Linked DNA regions of Homo sapiens. The protein of the gene in region 5 interacts with the protein of the main gene of each other region in a pairwise test. Each region holds a gene or a part of one and is shown on either strand. Other genes may lie near its edges.

What was found.
Region 1: the proteins of DSCAM (region 5) and SGSM3 interact in a two-hybrid assay, tested with the Homo sapiens proteins (one large-scale study listed by BioGRID and IntAct).
Region 2: the proteins of DSCAM (region 5) and SEMA4D interact in a two-hybrid assay, tested with the Homo sapiens proteins (one large-scale study listed by BioGRID and IntAct).
Region 3: the proteins of DSCAM (region 5) and SUPV3L1 interact in a two-hybrid assay, tested with the Homo sapiens proteins (one large-scale study listed by BioGRID and IntAct).
Region 4: the proteins of DSCAM (region 5) and WASHC4 interact in a two-hybrid assay, tested with the Homo sapiens proteins (one large-scale study listed by BioGRID and IntAct).
Region 6: the proteins of DSCAM (region 5) and ZNF202 interact in a two-hybrid assay, tested with the Homo sapiens proteins (one large-scale study listed by BioGRID and IntAct).
Region 7: the proteins of DSCAM (region 5) and CPNE5 interact in a two-hybrid assay, tested with the Homo sapiens proteins (one large-scale study listed by BioGRID and IntAct).

Annotation. Positions count from the first base shown.
Region 1 is NC_000022.11:40,369,403-40,373,393, reverse strand, and holds the start of SGSM3 (small G protein signaling modulator 3), read right to left. Parts: upstream 2,801-3,991; 5' UTR 2,706-2,800; intron 1-2,705. UniProt on the Homo sapiens protein: May play a cooperative role in NF2-mediated growth suppression of cells.
Region 2 is NC_000009.12:89,379,925-89,383,113, forward strand, and holds part of SEMA4D (semaphorin-4D isoform 1 precursor), read right to left. Parts: exon of another isoform or gene 1,504-3,189; intron 1,423-1,503; coding exon 1,250-1,422; intron 1,175-1,249; coding exon 1,131-1,174; intron 1-1,130. UniProt on the Homo sapiens protein: Cell surface receptor for PLXNB1 and PLXNB2 that plays an important role in cell-cell signaling. Regulates GABAergic synapse development. Promotes the development of inhibitory synapses in a PLXNB1-dependent manner.
Region 3 is NC_000010.11:69,183,234-69,186,733, forward strand, and holds part of SUPV3L1 (ATP-dependent RNA helicase SUPV3L1, mitochondrial), read left to right. Parts: intron 1-2,705; exon of another isoform or gene 2,706-2,753; coding exon 2,754-2,831; intron 2,832-3,209; coding exon 3,210-3,317; intron 3,318-3,500. UniProt on the Homo sapiens protein: Major helicase player in mitochondrial RNA metabolism. Component of the mitochondrial degradosome (mtEXO) complex, that degrades 3' overhang double-stranded RNA with a 3'-to-5' directionality in an ATP-dependent manner.
Region 4 is NC_000012.12:105,110,731-105,114,230, forward strand, and holds part of WASHC4 (WASH complex subunit 4), read left to right. Parts: intron 1-394; coding exon 395-534; intron 535-3,485; coding exon 3,486-3,500. UniProt on the Homo sapiens protein: Acts as a component of the WASH core complex that functions as a nucleation-promoting factor (NPF) at the surface of endosomes, where it recruits and activates the Arp2/3 complex to induce actin polymerization, playing a key role in the fission of tubules that serve as transport intermediates during endosome sorting.
Region 5 is NC_000021.9:40,840,659-40,844,158, forward strand, and holds part of DSCAM (cell adhesion molecule DSCAM isoform CHD2-42 precursor), read right to left. Parts: intron 1-3,500. UniProt on the Homo sapiens protein: Cell adhesion molecule that plays a role in neuronal self-avoidance. Promotes repulsion between specific neuronal processes of either the same cell or the same subtype of cells.
Region 6 is NC_000011.10:123,731,661-123,735,160, forward strand, and holds part of ZNF202 (zinc finger protein 202), read right to left. Parts: intron 12-3,500; exon of another isoform or gene 1-11. UniProt on the Homo sapiens protein: Transcriptional repressor that binds to elements found predominantly in genes that participate in lipid metabolism.
Region 7 is NC_000006.12:36,836,645-36,840,910, reverse strand, and holds the start of CPNE5 (copine-5), read left to right. Parts: upstream 1-1,466; 5' UTR 1,467-1,533; coding exon 1,534-1,628; intron 1,629-2,128; exon of another isoform or gene 2,129-2,215; intron 2,216-4,266. UniProt on the Homo sapiens protein: Probable calcium-dependent phospholipid-binding protein that may play a role in calcium-mediated intracellular processes. Plays a role in dendrite formation by melanocytes.

The DNA.
Region 1 (3,991 bases), on a different chromosome or scaffold from region 5:
GGAGTAAATGGAAGAGAAGAATGTAGAGTCTGCTTCTTAAGGACAAGTCTAGAAAGGAAAAGCAGGAGAAATGGTAGTAATTTGAAGGGAAATATGATCACAGGAAAGTTTCATATATTTTTAAGAATGAGAAAGACTTGAACACAGTTGTTGATAAGGTAGTACAGCACAGACAAAAGAGCAGAGTTTAGAGTCAGGTAGACTTAAATTCTGGCCCTGTCACTTACAGTGACCTGTGACAACTAGTGTCTGGTAAGCAGAAGGCATCCAATAAGTGGTTTCAATGATTATTACTACAGGTAGGAGTGGTGTTCTAACCCCTCCCACATATCTTGTGCTCCAGTCTAGATTCCCTAAGTCTGTGTATAATATGTGATGGCAAAGAAACAGGATCTTTTTTTCTTCTGTAACACTCATTGTGCTATTCCCATTTCCTTGTGACAGTCTGCATGAGCTCATGAATGGCTGCTGTGGAAAATTACTGACGTCACCAGCTGAATAACAGGCTATCTGGAGAGTAAGCAGATGAAACTGATGTTAAATTATCAAATGTACAAGATTTTGGGCTCCTGCCAAAACCTTCATTGAGAACTAAGAAGAGAAAAACTGAAAACACACAGAGCTTTTTTTAAGCTTCTGAGCCAGCAGGCTGTTCCTACATCCACTCCAGGCATAGAAAGATGGCTGTAAAATAAAAGAGATGATTATCTCCTCCCTTCCCTTCTCAATATTTCACCCTAATGTCGGGTTCATTTCTGTGAGGTTCTACCCGAGTTCACTTTTCTATCAACCTGACATGTTTCCAAATTCACGAGGTATGCGTTTTTATATTGAAGCAATTGTTTGTTTACAGCCTTTTAATGTTCTGGTCATGGGTTATGTTAACCTATTACCCATATCTGATCAATAGACACCTCACCCTCTCCCCTCCCAGACCACACACCTCCACGCTTAAAAAGGGACAGGGAGGGCCAGGCACGGTGGCTCACGCCTGTAATCCCAGCACTTTGGGAGGCCGAGGCGGGCAGATCACGAGGTCAGGAGATCGAGACCATCTGGCTAACACGGTGAAACCCCGTCTCTACTAAAAATACAAAAAATTATCCGGGTGTGGTGGCGGGCACCTATAGTCCCAGCTACTCGGGAGGCTGAGGCAGGAGAATGGCGTGAACCCGGGAGGCAGAGCTTGCAGTGAGCCGAGATCGCGCCACTGCACTCCAGCCTGGGCAACAGAGCGAGACTCCGTCTCAAAAAAAAAAAAAAAAAAAAAAGGGGGGGGGGACAGGGAGAAGAACTAAAGCTCAGGCTACTATGATAATTAGGGATGAAAAAGCTACATTCACTTAGGATTATCAAAAGCCAGGAAAGATATCTATAGAATTACAAATTAATCGGGCCTGGCGCAGTGGCTCACGCCTGTAATCCCAGCACTTTGGGAGGCCCGAGACGGGCGGATCACCTGTGGTCAGGAGTTCGAGACCAGCCTGGCCAACATGGCGAAAAACCCCGTCTCTATTAAAAATACACAAATTAGCCGGGCGTGGTGGCGGGCGCCTGTAATCCCAGCTACTCGGTAGGCTGAGGCAGGAGAATCACTTGAATCCGGGAGGCGGAGCTTGCAGTGAGCCGAGATCATGTCATTGCACTCCAGCCCGGGCAAGAGCGAAACTCCCGTCTTAAAAAAAAAATAGAAAAGAAAAGAAAAGAAGAATTACAAATTAATCACCAAGAACAGAAATAGTGTAAAAACAAAGATGTAATTCAACTGTTTAGAGTGCAGAGATAATTGGAACTAAAAGAGCAAGAAAAGCGGGAAACATATGTACCTATAAACCTAATCACAAACCTGTCACAAAAACTACGAGTAAACGAGTCGAAGTTGAAAATGAGTTTTTGTGAATCAGAGTCTGATTTGACTTGAATTTACTAAGAAAGAATAAGAAAGGTGTAGAACATTCCAGGACATCTCTATCCCACCGCAAAACAAAAAAGAGCCATCAACCCACCACAAACGTGCAGCGTGAGACTGGAAGATACACTAGTCACCCAGTCACTGAAAACAACCTTTGAAACATCTTTATTTTTCTTTCCAAATAAAAAAGAGCCTAGGTCAGTAAACTAAGTATGAGAATAATTTTCAAAATTCCAGTCCTAACCACACCGGATGATTCTGGCTAACGTATGCCTCAGTTTCCCCCGTGCTAAAATGCAAACACACCGGTGTTCCGAGTCTCGGGCCTGGATCCGAGCCCGGGTTCTGCACCTGGATCTGAATCTTAAAGGGAAAACCGCAAGTTAAACCTGAGGAGGAGTCTGCAGCTGTCCCGGTGCCAGAGCCAGCCAGGCTCTTTTTAGAAAGCCCCCCGCCTCAGGCGCGGTTTTCGTAAAACCGCTCCCGGCTGCCAGCGCGGTGGATTCCGGCTGGCGCCCCGAACACCTGAGGTGGCCTCGGCCGTCTAGGGGCGGCCGCACCGGAGGACGCAGCCGACCTCCCCGCCCCGCCGCGTCCCCGGCCCCCATTCCAACGGCGACGCGAGCAAGGTCGGCCCGGCGGCTCTCCGGCCCGAGGCGGTGCTTCTCTCGTGGGCGCCTTCGGCCCATACGACCCTCGGTCGGACAGTCCGACCACAGCCGCCCCGCAGCCCCCGCCTGAGGGGAACTTGTAGGCGCCGGTGGGTCTCCGCTGACTCCCGCCCCGCACTCACCTGCCCCACGGGCCACCTCAGCGCCAATCCGGGTCGGGTTAGCAGCTTCCCCACTCGCACCCAGTCAGCGCTCAGCGGCGCCTAAGCGCACGCGTGGCGGGGCGTGGCATGGGCGGCCGCGGGTCATGCTGGGGGCTGTAGTCGTTCCCGCCCACTAGGCGGGGCGCGTCCAGGGGCTTTGCGCCCCCATCCCAAGGCCAGCATGCATAGCGATGATTTCTTCGTCTGCACCGCAGCCTGAGAAGCTTGGGACAGTATGGTGTGGACCAGCAGTCAGGGTGGTGGGAGATAGACGCTGCAAATAACTTGCTAATTTTTTTTTTTTTTTTTTTTTGAGATGGAGTCTCGCTCTGTCACCCAGGCTGAAGTGCAGTGGCGTGATCTCGGCTCACTGCAACCTCCACCTCCCAGGTTCAATCAGTTCTCTGCCTCAGCCTCCCGAGTAGCTGGGATTACAGGCGCCCGCCACCACGCCCAGCTAATTTTTTTGTATTTTTAGTACAGTATTTTTAGTAGAGACGGGGTTTCACCATGTTGGCCAGGCTGGTCTCGAACTCCTGACCTCAGATGATCTGCCCGCTTCAGCCTCCCAAAGTGCTGGGATTACAGGCGTGAGCCACCGCGCCAGGCCGGAAAACGAAATTTTCTGAGTACCTTCTGTGTCAGATTCTATGCTGTGCAATTCCCATCTCACCAACCCTCACATCCACCTAGGCTTCATATCACCTTTCTAGGGACTCCTAACCCTCGTGCTTCCACTAAAGCTGTGTTTACAAACATCAGGCTCTCCTGGTTCTTAAATGAAACTGAGCATCAGCCAGGGAAAGAGGGCATTAAGTGTCCAGGTGTCTGACTTCAGCTGAGCAGACATTTCATCAGTTGCCCCAAGTTCTGCCCAGAACCTGACATCTGGGTAGTTCTGATGCTGGAGTCCGTGTGAATTTAAACCAATCTTAAAGAAAATACAACAGCCTGGGTTAACAGAGTGAGACCCTGTCTCTACAAAAAACAACAAAAAATGAACCACGTGTGGTTGTGTGTGCCATAGTCCCAGCTACTCAAGAGGCTGAGGTGAGAGGATCGCTTGAGCCCAGGAAATCAAGGCTGCAGTGAACTGTGGTCATGCCACTGCACTCCAGCTTGGGCGACAGAGCAAGATCTTGTCTATATATATATATAAAAGATAGATATATGAATGTATATTATATATAATATATATGAATGTATATTATATATAATATATATGAATGTATATTTTATATATATACATAAATGTACATTTAATA
Region 2 (3,189 bases), on a different chromosome or scaffold from region 5:
GTGCCTAGTGTCAGCTCTTTGAATCAGACACGAGACGCTTCTGCTAATGGCTGCAAGGAAGACTGGCCTTTCAGTGCATCTCAGCACTCTCCTCCTGCCTAAACTTTTCTTTTTTTTCTTTTTTTTGAAACAGGGTCTGGCTCTGTTGCCCAGGCTGGAGTGCAGTGGTGCAATCACAGCTCACTGCAGCTTCAACCCCCCCAGCTCAAGGGATCTTCCCACCTCAGTCTCCAGAGTAGCTGGGACTACAGGTGACCACCTCCAGGCCTGGCTAATTTTTGTATTTTTTGTAGAGACAGGGTCTCACCACGTTGCCCAGGGTAGTCTCGAACTCCTGAGCTCAAGTGATCCTCTTGCCTCAGACTCCCAAAATGCTGGGATTACAGGCATGAGCCACTGTGCCCGGCCAGCTTTTGTTTTCTTTTTAGAGTCTGGGTCTCACTTTGTCACCCCAGGCTGGAGTGCAGTGGCATGATAAGCTCACTGAGCCTTGAACCCCTGGGCACAAGCAATCCTCCTGCCTCAGCCTCCCTAGTAGCTGGGACTACAGGCGTGTACCACCATGCCCAGCTGCCTAAACCTTTCTTAGTCTGATGACAGCTGTCTTGTCAGGGTCAGGAAGACACAGAACTGAGGGTCAAGTCTGCCTTTAGCACCCTGGAAGGTGGCTGCTGGGGAAGGGGCATCTGGCCTGATGCCACCCCTCCCTCTGGGTGTGGTGCTATTTCAGACATCCACAGGCGGGTGAATCCCAGGTGGGAGCCCCAGGGGAAACACCACCCCAGCCCTTACACTGCCTGAGGATTAATCACTCATGGGCTCCTTTCTCCCCATTTATAACAGGCTTAGGTTTTGCTTAATGAGCCCCAAGCTAAGCAGAAAGAAAACAGGATGGTTTTGGAAGGAGACTGCTTCCCAGTAAGCAGATACACTCTAAGTGGCTTCAAGTACTCTTTCGGCAAGAAAAAAAGACAGAGAAGACCACGAGTCTGCTACAGAACACTTGACCTCTGTTCCGAGTGGAGAAAGAAAAACAAAACACACACAAATGCCACAGAACTGAAGCACCGTGAAATGGCTACAAGACCTCGCCACTCCCAAAGGAAATGGGACGTCGAGGAGTCACTCACCCGGGCACACAGAAGCATCGCCGCTCATCTCCTGAATCAAACCCCTGCAAAACAACCGGCACGTGTTATTCACCCACACACATGGGGGACATCCCCAGGCAGCGCATCCCGCCCCATACCTGCTGGGGCTCTCGGTCTGGTGCAGAGCCACGCAGGTCGCTGTGGGCGGGCTCCAGGCGCAGTAGGGGTCCCGCGCCAGCACACAGTCCTCGCAGGTGCCGTGCTTCCCACAGAAGGCCAGCGGGGCCTGGACCACGCCCGAGTTAGAGCCAGCATAGACAAACCTGTTGCCCTGCGTGTATGAGACAGAGAAGAACTAGCATCAGGCAAGCAGGCATCCAGGAGCATGGCCTCTGCTTCTGCACCAGTGTGTGGGAAGCAGCCAGAGTGTACCTTCAGGGGACATTGCAGTAAGGAGGAGAGGTACTCAGAACCAGAGGCAAACAAGGCAGGTCTGTGACCTTCCTGCAGAATCCACGTGCTATGTCAGGGCTCACTGGGCCTTAGGTCCAAATCCCTCTCTCCCCTGTCTGGGCACCCACAGGTGCCTGCCCTCCAGCAAAGCGCTTCTCTGCACGTGTTTCTCTTAGCCAGTGGGGAGGCTGTTCAGTCCCCACCTCCAGATCTCCTCCCTGCAGCAGAGGATGCATGAGCCTGGCACTCCCGGTCATCTTCCCGGCCTCACTATAGGTGAGAAGGGGCTGCAGCCAGAGGCTGAAGCACACCACCTCGAAGCCCAACCTCGTCCCCCGAGCCAGAATGTGAGCACCTGTGGGCGGGGAGCCTCTCGTGAGGGTCTGGATCCAGCAGAGGCCTAACATAACAGGGATGCCAAACGGACGACATGCAAAGGATGAGGAGATCGTGATACAAAACATAAAAAAGGAACAATGCCTTTTGCTTTTCACTTATCTATATGTAAAAGGGAAGAGCTCACAGACGGGAAGTCAACCTCCGAGCTCCAGAGCAGCCACACCCACAGCAGAGGGCAGGTGAGACTCTCCCACCTTCTGGGACACTTGGTTCCCAGTGACACCAGCTTCAGGTCCATCCCATCAGCCCACCTGGCACCAGCAGTGCCCAGCACACAGGCATCCAGGGCTGCTGACTGCTTTTGAACGGAACTCAGCTGGAAGGAGGGTGCCCCACATGCAGTGCACCCACCTGAAGCTCGGGGGCGTGCAACAGACCTGGAGGTGGCCCGTGGAGCGCGCTCTCTAGCCTCTGCCCAGGGCATCTGCCTCAACAGCCTGGGGACACCTTTTGGTTAACAATACAAGATTCCCAAATTTACACATGACTTAGTGGTTTACAGTCAGATGAAACACGACCTTCATCCTCAGAGGATACGCTCGGAGTCAACTTCAGAGTGTGGTTGGAAGATCACAGGCCCTGATGCCAATACAGGAAGCCCCAGGCCACACATCCAGCTGTGCGGACACAGACCCACGAGAGAAAGGGAAAGCCCCCAAGGATGGAAACTGTGATAATACACAGCAGAGGGAACCTGGCCCGCCGCTGGCCTCACAGCAGCAGCAGCAGCAGAGACCTGGGCAGATGAGGCCATGTGTGAGCCACGTTTGTGGGAAGGATTGAGGATGACATCCCAGATCACAGTTCGGGCATCGCGCGGCTTGTGGAGGTGGCGGAAACATTCTCTGGCAGCAAAGCCAAGCTGGGTAACTTCCAAGGGACAGCTGGTCCTGTTGGGTCCCGCGGGGGGCACCTGCGAGGTGGCGTGAACACCATGCAGTGCAGAGCAGGGTGCCCTGGGTGGCCAAGTGGGGCCCGCCTGACTCCTCACCCCAAAGAGAGGCTTGAGGGTAGCTGTGGAGGGTGGGGTGGGCTCTGGGGGGCAAGGCCTGTCCCAAGGGGATCCAGACCACCTCCTGCACCCTGCGGGAGACTCAGCCCCAGCTTCCGCTTCTCCCGGATGGGGCTGGGCTGCAGCCCAAATGAAACTAAGCTGTAAAAACTAAACGACGCCACACAGAGACCAAGGGATGACTGTGGAAGGGAAGAGGGGACAGGGAAGGAGGAACTGGTCGTCAGGACAGCC
Region 3 (3,500 bases), on a different chromosome or scaffold from region 5:
CATTCATTTCCCTCATTCTCCACTGCAACCAGCTTAGTCTAAATTGCCAGCTTCCATCTTTTGACTGGACTGCACATATAGCCCCTTATGTGTCTCCTCATATGCCTTTGATCCCTTCATTCTATTCTCTACCTGCAGTCAGAATGTTCTTTTAAAAAGACTAGGCTGGGCGCAGTGTCTCGTGCCTGCAATCCCAGCACTTTGGGAGGCCCAGGAGGGTGGATCGCTTGAGCCCAGGAGCTCAAGACGAGCTTGGGCAACATGGCAAAACTCCATCTCTACAAAAAATACAGAAATTAGCCAGGCATGATGGTGTGTGCCTGTAGTTCCAGCTACTTGGGAGGCTGAGGTGGGAGGGTTGCTTGAGCTTGGGTAGTAGTAGAGGTTGCAGTGAGCCGAGATTGCACCACCACACTCCAGCCTGGGTGACAAGAGTGAGACCCTGTCTCAAATAAAAAAAGAAAGATACAATTTTAATTTACATACTAGAAAGCTCACCCTTTAAAAGTGTATAATTCACTGGGTTTTAGTGTATTTGCAGGATTGTACAATCATCACCATAATTTCATTTTAGAACATTTTTATCACCCTAAAAAGAAACCTGATATCTGTTAGCAAGTCACTCTCTAGTTCCCCAGTCCCCAGTGTCTTTTTTTTTTTTTTAGCTCCAGATAACCACTAATCCACATTCTGTCTGTTGATTTGCCTGTTTTGTGTATTTCATATTTATAGTGTCATATAGTATTGGTCTTTTGTAACTGGTTTCTTTTACTTAGCATAATGAGAAATTTCACATTTTGGAAGCATTTTAATTTGAGTAAAGCAGCATGAATCTTATATAACACCGTAGTATTAGTCACAGAAAATAGGTTAATTCTAAATAAATGTGATCTGTCTTTAGTTTGTATCGAGTTTATAGGTCAGCAGAATTTTCCCAAGCAATGATGGCATGTGCCTTTTTCCAATCTTTTATTTGTCATTGGTTTTTCTACCCTTGATACCAAGAAACTGTTGGCCAGGTGCAGTGGCTCACGCCTGTAATCCCAGCACTTTGGGAGGCTGAGGCTGGCAGATCACCTGAGGTCAGGAGTTCGAGACCGGCCTGACCAACATGGAGAAACCCTGTCTCTACTAAAAATACAAAATTAGTCGGGCATGGTGCATGGTGATGCATGCCTGTAATCCCAGCTACTTGGGAGGCTGAGGCAGGAGAATCTCTTGAGCCCGAAAGGCGGAGGTTGCAGTGAGCTGAGATCGCGCCATTGCCCTCCAGCCTGGGCAACAAGAGTGAAACACTGTCTCCAAGAAAAAAAGAAACTGTTGTTCCTACCCGGCACAAAGTAACAGAGACCCAGAAATCTGCCTGTGATCTGAAATATAAATACACACACACACACACACACACACACACACACACACTGTGTGTGTATGTGTATCTCATATTTAATTGTGGGCAGATCTAGTGATTCTGAAATTTCCTCATTCTGTCAAACAGTTTTATTAGTGGAATGCTTTGTTCAGGCTTGATTTCTTCAATGAGTGTTGTGTGTGTTGGACTGTGTGAAAATGTGGTTGGCACATTTGTGAAAGGTAAAAATACAGGTCACTTGGCCTTTCTGAATTTCATGGGTAAAGGCTGTGTCCTCATTGTGGCTTCTCCTCCTAGAAATACATAGTGTGTGACTGAGTCAGTAAAATGTTTATTGAATAATGCTGTAGTATTTTAACATATACAACCATAATACAATCTCAGCTTGATTAGTTTAAAATACTTTTACCTCTAAGATTATTGATTCATAGTGGCATGTTATCTCCCAATAGCATAGACATTTCTCTGCCGTCACCCTTGACAGTCATCTAACCCTTGCTTGAGTAATTCCATTGGCAAGGAGCTCTCACTTTTCACTGTTCTAATTGTTAGGAAGTTCTTGTATAAATTCCACTGAAATCTGCTCCCACTGACTTTAGTTATGCCATCTAGCACAAAACAAGTGTAATCTTTTATCCCTGAAATCATCATCCTCAAACTTAACATCAGCGTGGCTTCCTTAAGCATGAGGATCTGGTCCTTGCTATATTGGTTGTCTTTCTGGATGTGTTTTAGCTGCTCACTGTTTGGATGTGCAGAATCGTTATAAGTGAATGACAGTGTGGCTCTCTACCTATAAGTGGCCTGGTGAAGGCTTGAGGCTGCCTCTCATCCCAGAGTGCATTGCTCATTCCTCTATGGTATAACAGGGTGCTGCATTATTTGACTCGATCATTTTTCTCTTTTTTTTTTTTTTTGAGACGGAGACTCGCTCTGTCTCCTAGGCTGGAGTGCAGTGGGCCCATCTCGGCTCACTGCAAGCTCCGCCTCCCGGGTTCATGCCATTCTCCTGCCTCAGCCTCCTGGGTAGCTGGGACTACAGGCGCCCAATAACAGGCCCAGCTAATTTTTGTATTTTTAGTAGAGACGGGGTTTCACCATGTTAGCCAGGATGGTCTCTATCTCCTGACCTCGTGATCCGCCCACCTCAGCCTCCCAAAGTGCTGGGATTACAGGCGTGAGCCACCGTGCCCGGCCAACTCGATCATTTTTCTTAACACTCCCATCGCATATGAATTCATAAAGAAGGATCGACTAAAACCTTCTAGTTCTTGCAACACTCATTAGACTGCTGCCTTTAGTGTTATTGCTTCAAGTTTCTTTTGCTTTTTTTCAGCATTTATCTAAGATAAGGAAACGTTAAATTTTGACATCTCTCTTCTAGATGAAGTAAAGAAGGTCTTAGACAAATTTTACAAGAGGAAAGAAATTCAGAAACTGGGTGCTGATTATGGACTTGATGGTAAGGCCCAAAACATCTTCATAGAGGTATTTTATTACCTCTTACGGTACAGCTTGGTCAGGACTGTACGACCCCTCATGTGACCTGGCTGTTGTAGTCTGGAGACACGTCCCTGCTCTTTGCTTCTGGCTGAGTGGGAGACTGGCGAGGCTCACCTGGTGAGCCATACTGCACGGCAGAGGAGCTGCAGCTGCGGCCTTCCTTCATGCTGTGCTAGGACTTCAGTTTTAGCCCAGATCATAATAAACCAGCTGTACTGCCAAAAAAAAAAAAAAAAAAAGAAAAAAAAAGACTCTTTGATGAGTTTGGTGTGGTGTGTCTGTGTGCTTTTTAAAATGAGAACTACACCTTACATCTTTTCATTTTGTGTTTCTACAGCTCGTCTCTTCCACCAAGCTTTCATAAGCTTTAGAAATTATATTATGCAGTCTCATTCCCTGGATGTGGACATTCACATTGTTTTGAATGATATTTGCTTCGGTGCAGGCAAGTGTTTAGAGACTTTTTAAAATCCTATTGAACATACCTTCTATTTCTTCTCATACTTCATGCTCATTTCTCTAGAAGGGCTTATTTGGTTTAGAGTGGGTCTGGTAACATCCTCTGTAAATAATTCAGTGCTTTCACAGGATGACTTCTAGGTTGTTTGCTTTTATATTGGGTCCCTGA
Region 4 (3,500 bases), on a different chromosome or scaffold from region 5:
TTCACCTTCAGATCATGAATATTTGTTTTTGCAAAAGAGTTGTTCATGACTAAAAGATAGAATCAGGACATTGAATTGTTTAAGGCACTTTTCAGATTGGTTCAAAGCCCTCTATTATGGGGGTAGATGGGCTAGTGGCTTTTTCATAATATGTTAGGGTTTTAAGGTAGTAACTTTATATATGGTAACATCTACTGCTTTTAAAATTATTTCGTGTATAGAGAAGATTGAAAGCTGAATTGTTGTTTAACTTTGGAACTTTATTTTCAGGAAGTCCAGACATTCCAGAGTAATAATTAACAGTGCTTTGCGTGACTTTTGAGGTTATTTGAAGTAAATGTCCTGCAATTCATTACTTGCACTTATCACATACTGTTTTAAAATTTAAACTTAGAAATTCATGCCGAAGTCCAACTTAAGAATTATGGGAAATTTCTTGAGGAGTATACCTCTCAACTGAGAAGAATTGAGGACGCTCTGGATGACTCAATTGGAGATGTTTGGGATTTCAATCTTGATCCTATAGCATTAAAGGTTTGATTTGATTTTTTAAAAATATATGTATATATTTTCTGGACATACTATATCCTGAAAACATAATTTTTTAAAATGGAAAAAGTATTTTTATTTGAAATCTAAGAACAAAATGAAAGTTGGAGAAAATTGTTAATTTCCTTTTCTCTAAGCCATGCAGATGTTTTTTAAATGTGTGTGTTTTCTGTTTAAGAATGACAAACACACAGCCTTTAGTGTCAAAGAATGACACAAACTCCAAGTCTTTGAGCTTGCCTTTGATTTTCATTATTAAGAAAATGAGGGCTGGATAGAATATTCAGGCTTTGTTTTTTCTTGATTGAGACTATTTTACATAGAGTGAAATGCAGATACTCTTAATTTTGCCAAACACTTGTAACTCATATCCCAATTAAGATAGAGAATATTTTCACCATTTCTGAAAAGTTCTCTCATGCTATATAGATGTTAATGTGTGAGTAATTTTTTAATGTATAAAATACATTACTCTTTCCATTTTGAAATATTTCTTTTATCTTTAAAATTAGTTTGTTACCACTTGAAAAATAATTTACATTTTATTGAGCACTTGTGTATTACACACTGTCCTAAGTCACACACTGACTTGTTTTTATAACAGCTTTCTTGAGATATAATTCATATATCATACAATTCACTCATTTAAATTGTATAATTCAGTTGTTTTTAGCATATTCACTGAGTTGTACAACCATCACAACAGTCAATGTTAGAACGTTCTCAGCCCCCAAAAAAGAAACCATGTACCGTGTGATAATCAACCCCCAGTTCATGCCATGGCATACCTGCCCTAGGCAACCACCAGTCAATCTACTTTTTATCTCTATGTGTTTGTCTCCTCTGTACACTTCATATAAATGAAATCATACGATATGTGCTCCTTTGTTGCTGGCTTCTTTAACTTATGTTTTCAAGGCTCATCTATGTTGTCACATGTTTTTAGTACTTTCTTTTTTTGCTGTTGCTGAATAATATTCCATTGTAAGGAATGGATAACCACATTTTATTTATCCATTCATCAGTTGATAGACATTGGATTTTTCTACTATTTGGCTGCTATGAGCATTTGGGCACATGATTTTGTGTAGACATATATAAGTATATTGTATATAAAATGTGTGTACATTGTGTGTATATTTTATACATATGTATATATGGGAGTGGAAATCCTGGGTTATGTGGTAACTATGTTTAACTTTTTGAGGAACTGCCAGAATGTTTTCCAATATGGCTATACCATTTTACATTACTACCAGCACTGCATGAGGGTTCCAGTTTCTCTACATCCTTGCCAGCCTTTATTGTCTTGATTATATTCTTCCTAGTGAATGTGAAAGCTCATTGTGGCTTTGATTTGCATTTCTGATGGCTAATAATGTTGAGCATCTTTTCATGTGCTTATGGCCATGTGTCTGTTTTCTTTGGAGAAATGTCTGTTCACATCCTTTGCCCATTTTTAAATTGGGTTATCTTTTTAGTATTGCATTATAGGACAAGTATTGACTTTTAATTCCCACCACAATCCTATAAAGTAGATACAATGTCATCTCCATTTGTAAATGAGAAAACTAAGGCATAGAAAAGTTAAGTAACTTAGTCAAGTAAGTGACACATTTAGTTAAATAATGAATATCAGGCAGCTTGACTCCAGAGCCTGTGCCCTTATCCAATACCCTGAACTGCCTCACAAATACTTTATATATTTGTAAACTGAAATTACTTTCCTTTGACTTCTTTTCTTGCAGGCTGGATAGACTTAGTCTTACTTTAAAAATCATCCCCCCCCAAATTTGTAATTGTCTCTTTTTGTTCCTCAACACTTCTGTGAGAATCATTGTATGTAAGTTATAGGAACTCTACTAGGAAACTGTCATTCTCAACCTGTACTATCTCTGAGGGTAATAAGTTTCATATATCTGTCACTTGGCATTAAGTAATACATGTTGATTTTTTAAACAGATGCTGTTGGGCTTTCTCGCCATTAAGTAATACTTGTTGATTTTTTTAAGACTTGCTGTTGGGCTTTAAGGGCCTCTTCTAGATAGGATTATAAAATCTGTTTTTTTTCTCAACTCTCAGATTTTATAAAAGGGTGAAATCATCTCTTAGTTTTTATCTTCCCCTACAGAAGCTTTCTAATCTTTACAATCTTATTATATGACAGACTCCATCTCCGCAGTTGCTCTCTTCGGAACCTCTGTTTAAGTTCTATTATTGGGCAGTTATTTTATTGTTTTTACTATACAAGGTTCTTAGTATTTTGGGAAAAACCACAAACTCAGATAAAACCTCTGTAAACAAAAATTACAACCTAATGAGAAAGGGTATATAATAACTTACTTGCATAAATAGTTAGTTAGTATGTAACCAGAAGGGAGATCTGAGATTTCACTTGATAAATAGATCACATATAGTCAATGATCAGGAAGAGGTGGAAATTGAACGGGCTTTAGGAGTGAACTCCACATACTATTTTAAGTGTTTCTGAGCATGGATTTATACAAGAAAAGATGTATTTTCTGTCTTGTTTCATTCTTAATTTATTTTGACCCTTTAGCTACAATATCTTATTAAATTTGTGGCTGCATAGAAAATTCAAAAATGATGAAAGGTTTTTCCCCATGATCATAACTAATGGAGTTTAATAATGTTACTATTACCTTATTACCTTGCATTTTCTTATACTGCACTCATAATCAGCCACCTTATGCTCCATAGGACAAGTAGAGTCGTGATTGTGTCATGTTGGGCCATTTCTTTCCTTACGTGTTGTCTAATGAGATTGTTTTGGATGAAGTAGTTGATATGGTGCTAATGTTGAGTACAGGATCTAACACAAGTTTAAGTCGAATAAAGCTAGCCTCAATTTGTGTTTTTAAAATTTCAGTTATTTTTCAAATTAAAAGAAATGTTCTTTTCCTTTGTTTCTGTAGCTTTTGCCTTATGAA
Region 5 (3,500 bases):
TGCCCCAAGCCACAGGCGTTTCTGGAAAATAAACATTTCTACCGTGATTGAGTCACTACGACAGAAAAAGGTGGGTAGAGCAAAAGAGTCCAGTGGTTTAGTCAGAATGCAAGATAGGGACCAGGAGAGCAAGTCCAGGAAAGCAAACTAAGAGGGGGAGCCAATCAGCTAGAGGCAGAAGAGAGAGGTGGACGGGAGGGAGGAAGGTGGACAGGAGTTAAGGAGGGGAGAAAGGCTCTGCCTATCACTTTTTCCTTTCACTCCGTAAGGAACATCATCTATTTCCACTACTCCATACCATGTGCTCTGCTCTGTGCTAAGGACACGCTCAGGCTTCGCACGCATTTCAGACTATGGAGGCTCCTGTCTAGCTAGTGAGAGAGGCAGTCACTAGCCAAATCAGCATCACCTAAATGCAGGCGTAACGATTACCACAGACTCCATCAAGGAAACAGCCAAGATTTTTAGAAAAAGGATAATATGGAGGGAACTGATTTTCAGGAGCAGATTTGTGAAACCCAACCCTTCTGAACGTCCTGGTCAGAAGCTGTCTGACCTCTGAACCAAAATCCTGTCCCTGCTTCCCTCCTGCCACCTTGACAGACCTTGCGTCACCTGCAGAAAACATCCGTGTGCTCCACCCTTTGAATTCAGAACGACATAGTGGATACTCCGTGGGGCTGCTGGAATCTTCCATTCCCACTGCCTTATCTTAACCCATAGATTCGGCAAGGGAAATGCAACTTTGAATTTTCTGGCATTTTCACAACATTGAAGAAAAGAACATAAATATAGTTGGGGGGAGGGGCGCGGAGAGATAAGATGAGCATTTTTGTGCCCAGGTCTTTGGAACTTGAAGAGTTAACCCCCCAGTCCAGGGGAACAGGTGTTTTCCAGTGGGCCTGGGGGAGAGGGAAGGGGGCTCCCGGTCCCGGAGCCTTGCCTGCGGAGATTGATGGACTGCGGAGGAGCGGGCACGTCAGCATCACCCCTGTCACCATCAGCAGGAGAAGCGGCGGCTCCTGGAATGACATTGGAAGGTCAGCCAATCAGGCGCGGAGCTGCTCCCGGAGCTGCCACCTCCGAGGCGCGCGCCACGCCGGGGTTCCCTCGCGGCTTTGGAAAGGGGGTGCAAATGCACCCTTCTGCGGGCCCGCTACCCGCTGCAACACCTGTGTTTCCTTTCTGGGCACCTTCTAGGTTTCTAGATATTGCTGTGAATACGGTCCTCCGCTGTACAGTTGAAAACAAAGGCTGCTGGACCTCGCCTGACCTGCGGTTGCCTTTGCCCGGTTCCTGTTAGACGAACTCTACGACGCCGGAGTTTGGGCGCAGTGAACTTGAGAGATCGTGGGGGAGGCGTCTTCAGAAGAAAGCCCCTGACCATCTGCATGGAGCAGTCCTCCCTCGGTGGCGGCTGGGTTTGCTGGCTCTGCTGAAGGCTGGCTGCAAGAGTCTTGTGAGGTTTGCCGCCCACTAGTGTCCTATGGCGGGGACACAATCGGCCTGCAGGTAGCACCACCTCCCTATCTCCCAGGCTGAGGGTGCGGGCACCAAGGCCCAGCGTGCACTTCAGCGCAGCAGCCAAGAAAATGCCCACACGCGCTTGTTTGTGTGGGCACACCCCTGGGTGCCTGCCCTGCTCTGGAGAGGTGGGCCACGCATGGAAACCGAGGAAATCGAAGTGCTCATTTCCGAAATACTATTGAATGCACTGCCTAATGCAAAATACATTCTTTTTCACTACCTATTAATTATTTATGAGCCACATTCATAATCTTACCCGTAGAATTCAGCTAATTTTACGAAACCTGGATGCCACATTTTGTAAATGCATCCACTTGATAAACCCATCCTTTTATTTTGCAAACATAAATTTCCAATCTACAGTGTTCACAGGTCTTTCTTTATAAAATGACCTCTCTCTCTCCCTCTCTCAATCAAGTTTTAATACGCATTGAATTGAGTCTCTTGTCGAAATACTCCGTGCACCTTACTCCAGACACATCTAACATAAAATACCTTGCCAGCTACCCGGAGGTCCAGGAATTGGGGATTAGAATTGGCAAATATTTTAGTCAAAATTAGTTCCCCTACCAGAATGCTGTATTGCGCTGGTTCTGCCCCCCGTGACTCACTGATCCCCCGAGGCAGCAAACCGTGGTCACACCAAAATGACAAAGGAGAGAGTCAAAAAGTGGAGAACGATCCACTGGCATTTATTGAAGGTCTGCGTGGCATTTTGTTTTCCTACAGAGGGCATCTTGGAGGGGCATGCAGCTTAAGTTAAAAGGCCTCGGAATTTAGGTGAACCCTGAGATTATGGATAGCTTTTTAATCTGTTTAATAAAGATGGGGGAGAAAGGGAAGTGGAGGCAGCCCTGAAATTGTTCACCTGATAACATTTCTTCCTTACATACATTTATGTGAATTAAATAAAAATCACCTTTGAAGTCCTTAAGGTGCATTTGTATTTACAAAGGTCTGCTTCTAATTAAATAAAATAGCAAGCGTGTGCTCTGTAATTTCCTATCAAGTGAATGGATGAAGCTCAAAGGTGCTGCATACTCATCTTCTCTTTAATGAGCACCTTCTTACTCCCAGCACCCCACCGTCTCTAATCTCCATGACCCTCAGGCCCCATGAAAGCGGATGCAGTAGAACTGAAAATCCCACAGCTCAGGAAAAGATGATGTCAGGAATGCATGCATGTGTGTGTGTGTGTGTGTGTGTGTGTGTGTGTGTGTGTGTAAAAACAGAGATGCCAGGATACTAGCAAAACTATATTACATATAATAAATCTAATTCTTCATCATTCTGTTTGTCTGAAGGCCTGGCTCTTCTTTTAGCAATAATTTTAAACTAGAATGTGCTCTGGGGTTAAAACCAGGAGAAATGGTAATGAAACACAATGCAGTAGGAAGCTTTGCTGAGAAGACACCGAGGGACGTGTGTGGGTGAGTGTCTGCACATACGTGTACCTTGGCTCCTTGCACTGTAACAGAAGCTCGCGTGTATTTCCAGAACATTGCAGAACAAATTGACTGCTTTAAAACACGATACTGCACCTCATCAGGTGAGGTCATTCATTTAAGGGTTTAACCTATGAAGGGCCTGGTCACTGACTTCTTCTTTTTTTTTTTTTTTTTTTCAAAAATACTGCCTGCAGCCTGTCTAGCAACCATACTTTTATTAAGAAATAACTGTACTTCTGATACATCAATAAGAAAAATATTGTTGTCTACTGTTAAAATGCAGATGTATTGTGGGCTTATTTTAATAGCCCCAAATATTAAACTACATAATCTTTTACAAATGAAAAAAAAAAGTTATCATGTCAGGCATTTTGATGCTTGAGGCCTAGCAATAATCAGTTTAGGTATTAGAATTCATCAATCTTTTATCACACACATTCAGAAATTTTTCAAAGTTGAGGTATAACAAAATATGACAGTTGTTGACAAAAATATTCTCAATTTTTTAAAGTTTAATTCAGATAG
Region 6 (3,500 bases), on a different chromosome or scaffold from region 5:
AGTTTCTCTGTCTATAGAAGGGAGATAATAATGGTTTTTATCTAATAGGCTTACTGTAAGGATTAAATGTATTACTAAAGCCTATGAGCATTAAATGTATTACTATCTTTGCTTAGAAGAGTGATGGCACCAGCTATTATCTTTCTAAATTATAGTTCCAACTATATTACTCAGTATTTTAAAACAAAACCTTTTTCATGTTAGTAAAATCAGTTCCAAAATCCTGGGAATGACACGAAGCTCTTTACAATCAGCCCCCAATCTATTTTTCAAGCTTCAGATCCTACCTTTTCCCTGTATCACCTGGTTATAAAAAATGCATTGCTGATCTCCCTACAACAGGGTGTCTTTTCAGTCTTCCATGTCTTTTTGAAGGTTGTTCCTTCTGCACAGGCTACTCTCCACCCTTCTCCTTTCCACGCTACATGGTGTGTTCTCTTTCTTTTTAACGGGTCTTGTCTTTATTCCCACAATTTACAGCTTAGGTCCCTCTCACTTCTCATCTGGATGACTGCAACTGCCTCCAAATGTGAGCTATCTGCCTCCAGATTTGTCACCTTCACGTACCCACTATGATCAGAACGAGCTCTCTTGGCAAACGTGCTCATGTCCCTTTCCTATCTAAGATCCTTCCATCACTCCCCGCTGTCTTGTTAAGTGAAATACAAACTTCAAACATTCTACATTAGGTTGACGTTCATCTTGTTATTCTCTTCGCCCTCCTCTCCAATCCTTTCAGACACACACGCACACACGTGTGTACATGCAAAGCACACAAGAGTCCCGTGTTCTTTAGCTTTTGAATATGCTGTTTCTTCTGATTCTTTATCCTTGGTTAGGTTAAACTTTAAATTTTTCAAGACATAAGCTCAAGCTTCATGTCTTCTGAGATGTTTTCTTTGATCCCATTTCCCCTACTCTCAGACATAGTTAGAAATCACCTAAGTCCTCCCGTAGTGACCTGGGCACCTCTCTATCCCAGTATTGGTCATATTACATAGCCATCGCTCATCTTTCCTGTGAAACTCTTTGAGGTCAGAGACTATTTTCCATCAATCTCCAATACCTATAATAAAGTGCACAATAAATGCATTTAAAATGAATAAAACTCTACTCCAAAGCTTCTTCCTATGGTAACAGGAAGAACCATTGTTTCCTCCATTATGCTTTTACTATCTCTTGATTATTCACCATATCCTGTTAATTCCAACTTCCAAAAAATGTCTTTCGAATCCATCCATCTCTTCATCTCTACTGCCATTTCCCGGTTGAGCCATTATGACCCACTAGAAGGTATTCATAGGAACTTTAAAAAAAATTACAATATCCTCTGCTCCTAAACGGCACTGGCACGTAACAGGCACGGATACATTGGAGAGATGACTTAGTTCAACCTCCATGACTGGTTTTCTTGGTCCTGTCCCCCTCCAGACCAGTGTCCACAAGCAGCTTAAGGGCTCCATCATTTCTCAACCTTTTTGTGCTATACTACAGTTGCCTCACATCCACATTCAAGGTTATCGATCCACTCTTAATAGCTGTGTCTCATCTATTGTTGCCCATCAAATGAGTTTACAGTCAATGATCACATTATCTTCATTCTTTCTCAAAACGCTTCTAATTCATGCTCTTATGACATTTTTTTCATTACCCTCAGTCACTTGCAACATACTTTCACAGTCTATCTTGGATAGCTCCCTAATTCCTAGATCTTCATGTGTAATTTTTCCTCTGCTATCTCTACCTCATGGTGATTTATTTTTTTCTCAAGTGGCTTGTAATTTTTTTATTTTATGTCCATCTTTTTACTTTGGGAGTCCTGAGAGCCCTGGATTTAAATGTGAGCCCCTTGAATGTAATTTCATTTGTTTCTTCCTAAGTGCTAATGGTTTCAATGATCTTGGACAGTTTGCTTTTTTAAGACTCTCCCTCTGTTGCCCAGGCTGGAGTGCAGTAGTACAATCATAGCTCACTACAGCCTGGATCTCCTGGCCTCAAGTGATTTTCCAACCTTGGCCTCCCAAAGCACTGTTACCAGAGGCTGAGCCACCATGCCTGGCCAAATCAGTTTTTATGTTAATTTCTCAGGGTGTTCCTGAATAATGCTTTTGTGTATTATTTAGATCGATGCCTTCAAGTAATGTTTGGCCTACCCAAGGTTCTGGAGAACCCACTTCCTTGCACTTTTCCTGGGTCAGTAGGACGATTTTCAAAGGTCCAGGTTTGCAGGCTGCTTAATTCTGTAACTTTCACACAGCGTCAGCTTCCCAAGTCCTATCTCCCTGTTGGAGTACCAGTATTAAAAGCTCAATCCCTAGAAACCTTATTTTGGTTTGGAATCTCACTGCGCCATGGTAAAGTCAGCTTATACTTATTTTTCTAGTGGTTATTTCTTTTTCCTTCTGGAACCTATGCGCTTTCCTTTAGCTTTTGAGAGAGAGAGACAGAGAGAGAGAGAGAGACAGACACACAGGGAGAGACAGACACACAGGGAGAGACAGCATGGGCTGTCCTGTTCCTGACAGGAACAGGATTTAATAATGGGCAGGAGGCCCATCCACATTAGCTCCACCTGCAATACTCCAAGTAGGTGAGTGGTGAACTTCCTAACATACAAAATCTGCCAATGGCTTCCCAGTGACCTTAGGTTAAAATTTAAACTTCTTAAAATGTGATACACAAAGACCTTCAAAAGCTGGTCCCTGCTACCTCTCCTTCCTTCCATGACTGCCACTCCCATTGAAAGCCACTGCAAGAATTACTGTTCTTTCTTTTCTATACCCTCCCTGGGCTTTCCTGATGCTGTTCACCTTGTCTGAAGTACCCTTCTCCACTCTTCATGTGGTTAACTCTATCCATCTTTCAGAGCTCAGTTTTTCCAAGATGCCTTCCCTGGTCCTCCCAGATGATGCTTCCACAGGAACTTGTATCTCCCCCTATCACAGCATGCACATGTGTCTATTTTTTGTGTCATCAAAACTGTTCATCTTCTGTTGAACTCACTGGACTGTAAAGCTCTGAGGGCAGGGATATGCTGTGCCCAGCTCGATGCCTGGCACACACCAGGCACTCACTTCACATTTGATGAATGCAGAGAATGCTTAGTAAGGTTTTAAAAGTCTGTTTCCAGAAGGATAGATACCATGTTATATTAACCCATATTCATCCATAAGTCTAGCAAACTGTGTGCTGGATAAAGGCATACATAGGGAAAAAAACATTTATTGTTTGGATTGTGAGTAAAACAGAATTCTCTTAGTGGTTCCCAAGATGATGGAACCACAACTCATCACAAGGAATCTTCAGGTTGCACCGGGAATAATCCAAATGCAAGTCACACAACACTTGGCATTTGAAAAAAAAAAAATCATTTTCCATTGAGGATTTAAATCAATTTTAATAAGCGCAAAATCAGACATCAAATAAATGGAACTACAATACTAATTATTTATCCAGACAAAGCTTTCCAAACCCCACCCCAACTCCTACCCCTGGAAGAC
Region 7 (4,266 bases), on a different chromosome or scaffold from region 5:
TTACTCAGGGAGACGCCTCTGCGCTGCAACCTCATGCCCGGGAGGGCAAGGCTGGGCTAGGGCGGGGGATCGCGAGGGGCTTGGCTGGGAAGAGGACTGCAGGAGAGGTGTCCCAACTCTCCCCTCGCTCGCCAGGCACACAGCACGCGCCTACTCGGTGCTGGCTGCATAGAAGCCCAGGGAGCTCGGGCCGATCTCCCAGTCTGGTTGCCACCAGACTGGGTGGCAGGAGCTTCTAGACCTGGAGGCTGGCTCAGTCGTGTGGTCACGACGGGCGGGGGAGTGGAAGGGCGCTGGCGCGTGGTTTCGGCAGCCGACTTGGCGAGGCCGCGGCTGGCGGGAACCACGGATGGGGGAGGCGCCCATGCACCGACCCCACCTGGGCCACTGGGAAACCGAGGTAGTCCCTCCTGGCACTGGGGTCGCCCCCACACACCTCCCCAGAAGGAGATGTAGGGTCTGTTTCTGAACTGAGACCCGCCCCCGAGTAGGGCGCACACTCAGCAGAGACCCTCCACACCCAAGCCCCTGGGAGGGGATCTTTTTTGCACACCTCCCTCCCACTTATGCCCCCTCTCAACCCTGCATAGACCTTTCTCAAAAAGGCGCCCGTTGGTTCCCATAACCCTCCCCCTCCCCCAGGATGGAGACCCCTGATGGGAGATAGGGGTGGTGAGAGGGGGCGGGCGCAAATGAAGATGCGCGCGACCAGGACCACCTCTTGCTGTCACCCGCCACGTCCCCAGCATCTGGACCGCGTCCCCCGGCCCGCCACGCGCGCACACACACACACACGCGCACACACACACGCTCACACTCACCCTGCGCGCAGACCCCGCCCGCGGCCCCGCCCCGGCCCCTGCGGGCGCCCCCTCTGGCGTTCCCGGGCGGCGGGAGGCTGCGGCTTCGGGCAGATTTGATTTTCCCGCAGCCCGGGCGCCCCGGAGCCGAAGCCCGAGCCGAGGAGGTGGCGCTCGCAGCCGCGTCTCAGCCCCGTCGCCGCCGGCGCCAAGACCCAGGGAGAGGCGGCGCAGCCCGGGCGCTCGGGCTCCGCGCTGCCGGCGCCCCGCCACCCCCGCCGCCAGCGCCCCATCCGGCGCCTCCCGCTCCTCACGCCCCTCTCCCTGTCTTCTGCATCCCCTCTACCTCTGCCCACAGACGCGCGTCCCTCTCCTGGTGCCCCTCTCCACGACTCCGCGTTTCCCTCCCGGTGCCCTCTCCCCGAGCCCCTCTCCCCGCGCCCCTCTCTGCCTTCCCCGCTGTGCCCCCGCTCCCTGGGCTCCTTGCCCTTCCCCACTGGGCCCCTAGCCTCCTCGCGGCGTCACCCGAGCCCCCTCCTCGATCCGCGGCCCCCGCTCCCTCCGCCCTCTTCCCTCTCTCACTTCCCACGCCCCCTCTTCGCGCTCCTCTCTCCTCCCCTTGCCGCCCAGCCCAGGCTCTGGAGTTGGGGGAGAGCCCAGGGCTCCAGTCGCTCCGGAGGAGGCGTGAATCGCGCAGGGATTGACTAATTTGGGGTGGGGGGTGCGGTGGGCGATGGAGCAGCCTGAGGACATGGCGTCGCTGAGCGAGTTCGACTCCTTGGCGGGCAGCATCCCGGCCACCAAGGTGGAGATCACCGTGTCCTGCAGGTGAGCCTCCCGCTGGCCGGGTCCCCTTGCCCCGGCCCTGGACGCAGAGCCCCGCGGCCCCTGCCGCTTCGATCCTAAACCTCCGCGCGCCCCCTTCCCAGAGTGTCCTGGTCTCCAGGACTGCGCCCCTGCCGATCTGCCAAGAGCCCCTGTCCTGTCCAGCTGCGGGTGGCGACGGCAGAATAGGAAGCCAGGCTGGGGTCATATCCCAGAAAGTTTGCGCTCCAGGCTGTTGCATCGAGGAGATATGAAGACACAGGAACAGGGGGTCCAGGCACCCAAGTGGGGAGAGGGAGTTGGTAAAAGGCTGTACTACGGTCTCTGCTCAGGCTATCTCTGATCACCCCATCCCCAAATCACGAAGTGAGTGATTTGCCCCCATCCCTCCCAGGCTCGTCCACCCTCTCCCTTCTGTGCCCTCCTCTCTTCTCTCTTTGCCCCTTCTTTGCCCCAGCATCCTGATCCTCCCCTCACCAGTCTCCCCCACCCCACTGTCCTAGACTCTAGGATTTTAAAGCCTTCCTTCATCTCTATCAACAACGAAATCGACTCCTGGAAAAGGATCAGATTGACTCATTCATACTAAGGTGTGGATACATGATAACAACTTAAAGTGGCACCATTAAAAAAATAACTTGGGTCAAAAATCTTAAGCCAAAGGAATAGAACACTGATTGTGAAACTGTAGAGTCCAACAGAGGAGGAGGGGGAATATTTTTGTGGGCTACCACGCCCAAATCTTCACTCATGTCACACAGGGTTTGGGGGTAACTTCTCTGTCTAAGAGCTGGGTCGACCCCAGGTTCTCCTAGCTAGGGGAAGGCTGCCCCTGGCAGTAAGAGGGTATGGGTGGCAAAGGGGGATTTTTCCCTAGTTCAGTCTCTCTGTGGCTGGCCTAGGATCATGTGCTGCCACGCAAGCATCACCCACTTTGAGGTTCCCCCACAGAGGCCATGCCCCCTGCCCCAGATCACCGACAGCATTTCTGGAGCCCTGGCTGTGCCCTTGTTCGAAATCACCCATCTCATCCTCTTCCAGGTTGCTCCTTGGTCAGACCCTCCATGAGAGGTAACCTTGTTGCCCCCCAGTCCTGTATTACAAAGTTGTGGCATTGATGAGGTGTAGGTAGAGCTGGAGAGTCTGGGCAGGGGCGTGAAGGAGGGAAGGACTCAGTGTGACTTTCTCTTGAAGACTTGGGGATAAGTGGCAGTGAAGGCTAGTCTGGTTGAACGTAGCTTCCCCCCTAAGCCAGGCCCTCTGGGGGCTCCTGTGATAGCTCCCAGGTCCCATACACCATGCCGTCAGGATCATCTCCCAACGCCATTTGCATCTTGTCATTACTCTGCTGGGAGATTCCTGATGGCCCATTAGCTCCAGTCTCACCTCCTCAGCCATCAAAAGCAGCACGGCCTCCCCACCCTTCTCCTGCACGCACATCCCTGCGCCTGGCACTCCCTCCCAGCCTTCAATCATGCCTGTCATCTTCAGTTGTCTTGGGATCCTTCCCACCTCCAAGCCTCTGAACAGCCCATTCCCCATCCAGATTTCACTCTTCCTTTATCTCCCCAAGTTCATGATCCCCCCACTCCTGAAAAGCCTGGCCTCACGCTCCCCACTTTCAGGCATCCTCTCACCCATGAGACACACAGCTCAAATCATTGTCTTCTGTGTCCCGTGGGCCCTAGGTACTCAGCCTGGGCCACAGGGTCACTCACATACTGAGGATGAAACCTCTTGAGACGTCTCAGGTGTGCAGACGTCATCCCTCCCCTCTCAAAGCAACTGTGTAAGCATTTGAGGGCAGGGATTCCCACCCTGAGTCAGACCCATGCACCCTCTACTCCAGTGGAGAGGAAAGGAGATGGAGGGCAGATAGTGTGGCTTTGGAGTCAGATACCTTGAAACAGAATCTCTGCTTCACCACTTGGGGCAAATTTTAAGCCTCAGTTTCCCCCACCTGTCAGGTACAAACAATAAGCAGCATGTACTCATGGAGAAACCTTGTTCACCAAGGTAGCTCATGTGCTTAGAGCAGTGCCTGGCACTTGCCAAATACTGTTGGAGGAATTAACTTGCAGGAGTGGAGGAGCATGAAGCACCTAGCAAGCTACTTTGCACTTGCTTGGCACACAGTAGGTGCTCAATAAGTAGCTACAATGATCACCGGAAGGCGGTAGCACCTGGCCCCTCCTGTTTGCTTTCTGGAAGTAAAGATGTCCAAAGGACTCAAACCTCTTGCATAAGAGGCCTTCCTGGGGGATGTGGTTCTGGGGCTGACCCTGGGTCAATACCCTTTTGGGGGACATGATCCATGAGCTGAGGAAGGCCCTGACCTGGGGCCTGCTCATGTTCTCCAGAAAGCCAGAGGTGGGGGGAAGTGGGTTTTGGTGGGGAGAGATGAGGAGGGAGCAGTCACTTAGAACAGAGGGGAGGTGAGAAAACAGTCTGGGTGGCCTGGAAATTGTAGATGCATCTCTCTGCCTCAGCCAGGCCCAACTATTCAGGTTCTAGAACAGAGAGAAAGAGGAGGAGGAAAAGGAGGAGGAGAGGAGCACAGGGAGGAGGGAGAAATGCAGACAGTGGCTTTCTCCAGCATATTCTTCACTCCATGGTCGCCAGTTAAAGTCAAGTCCCTCCC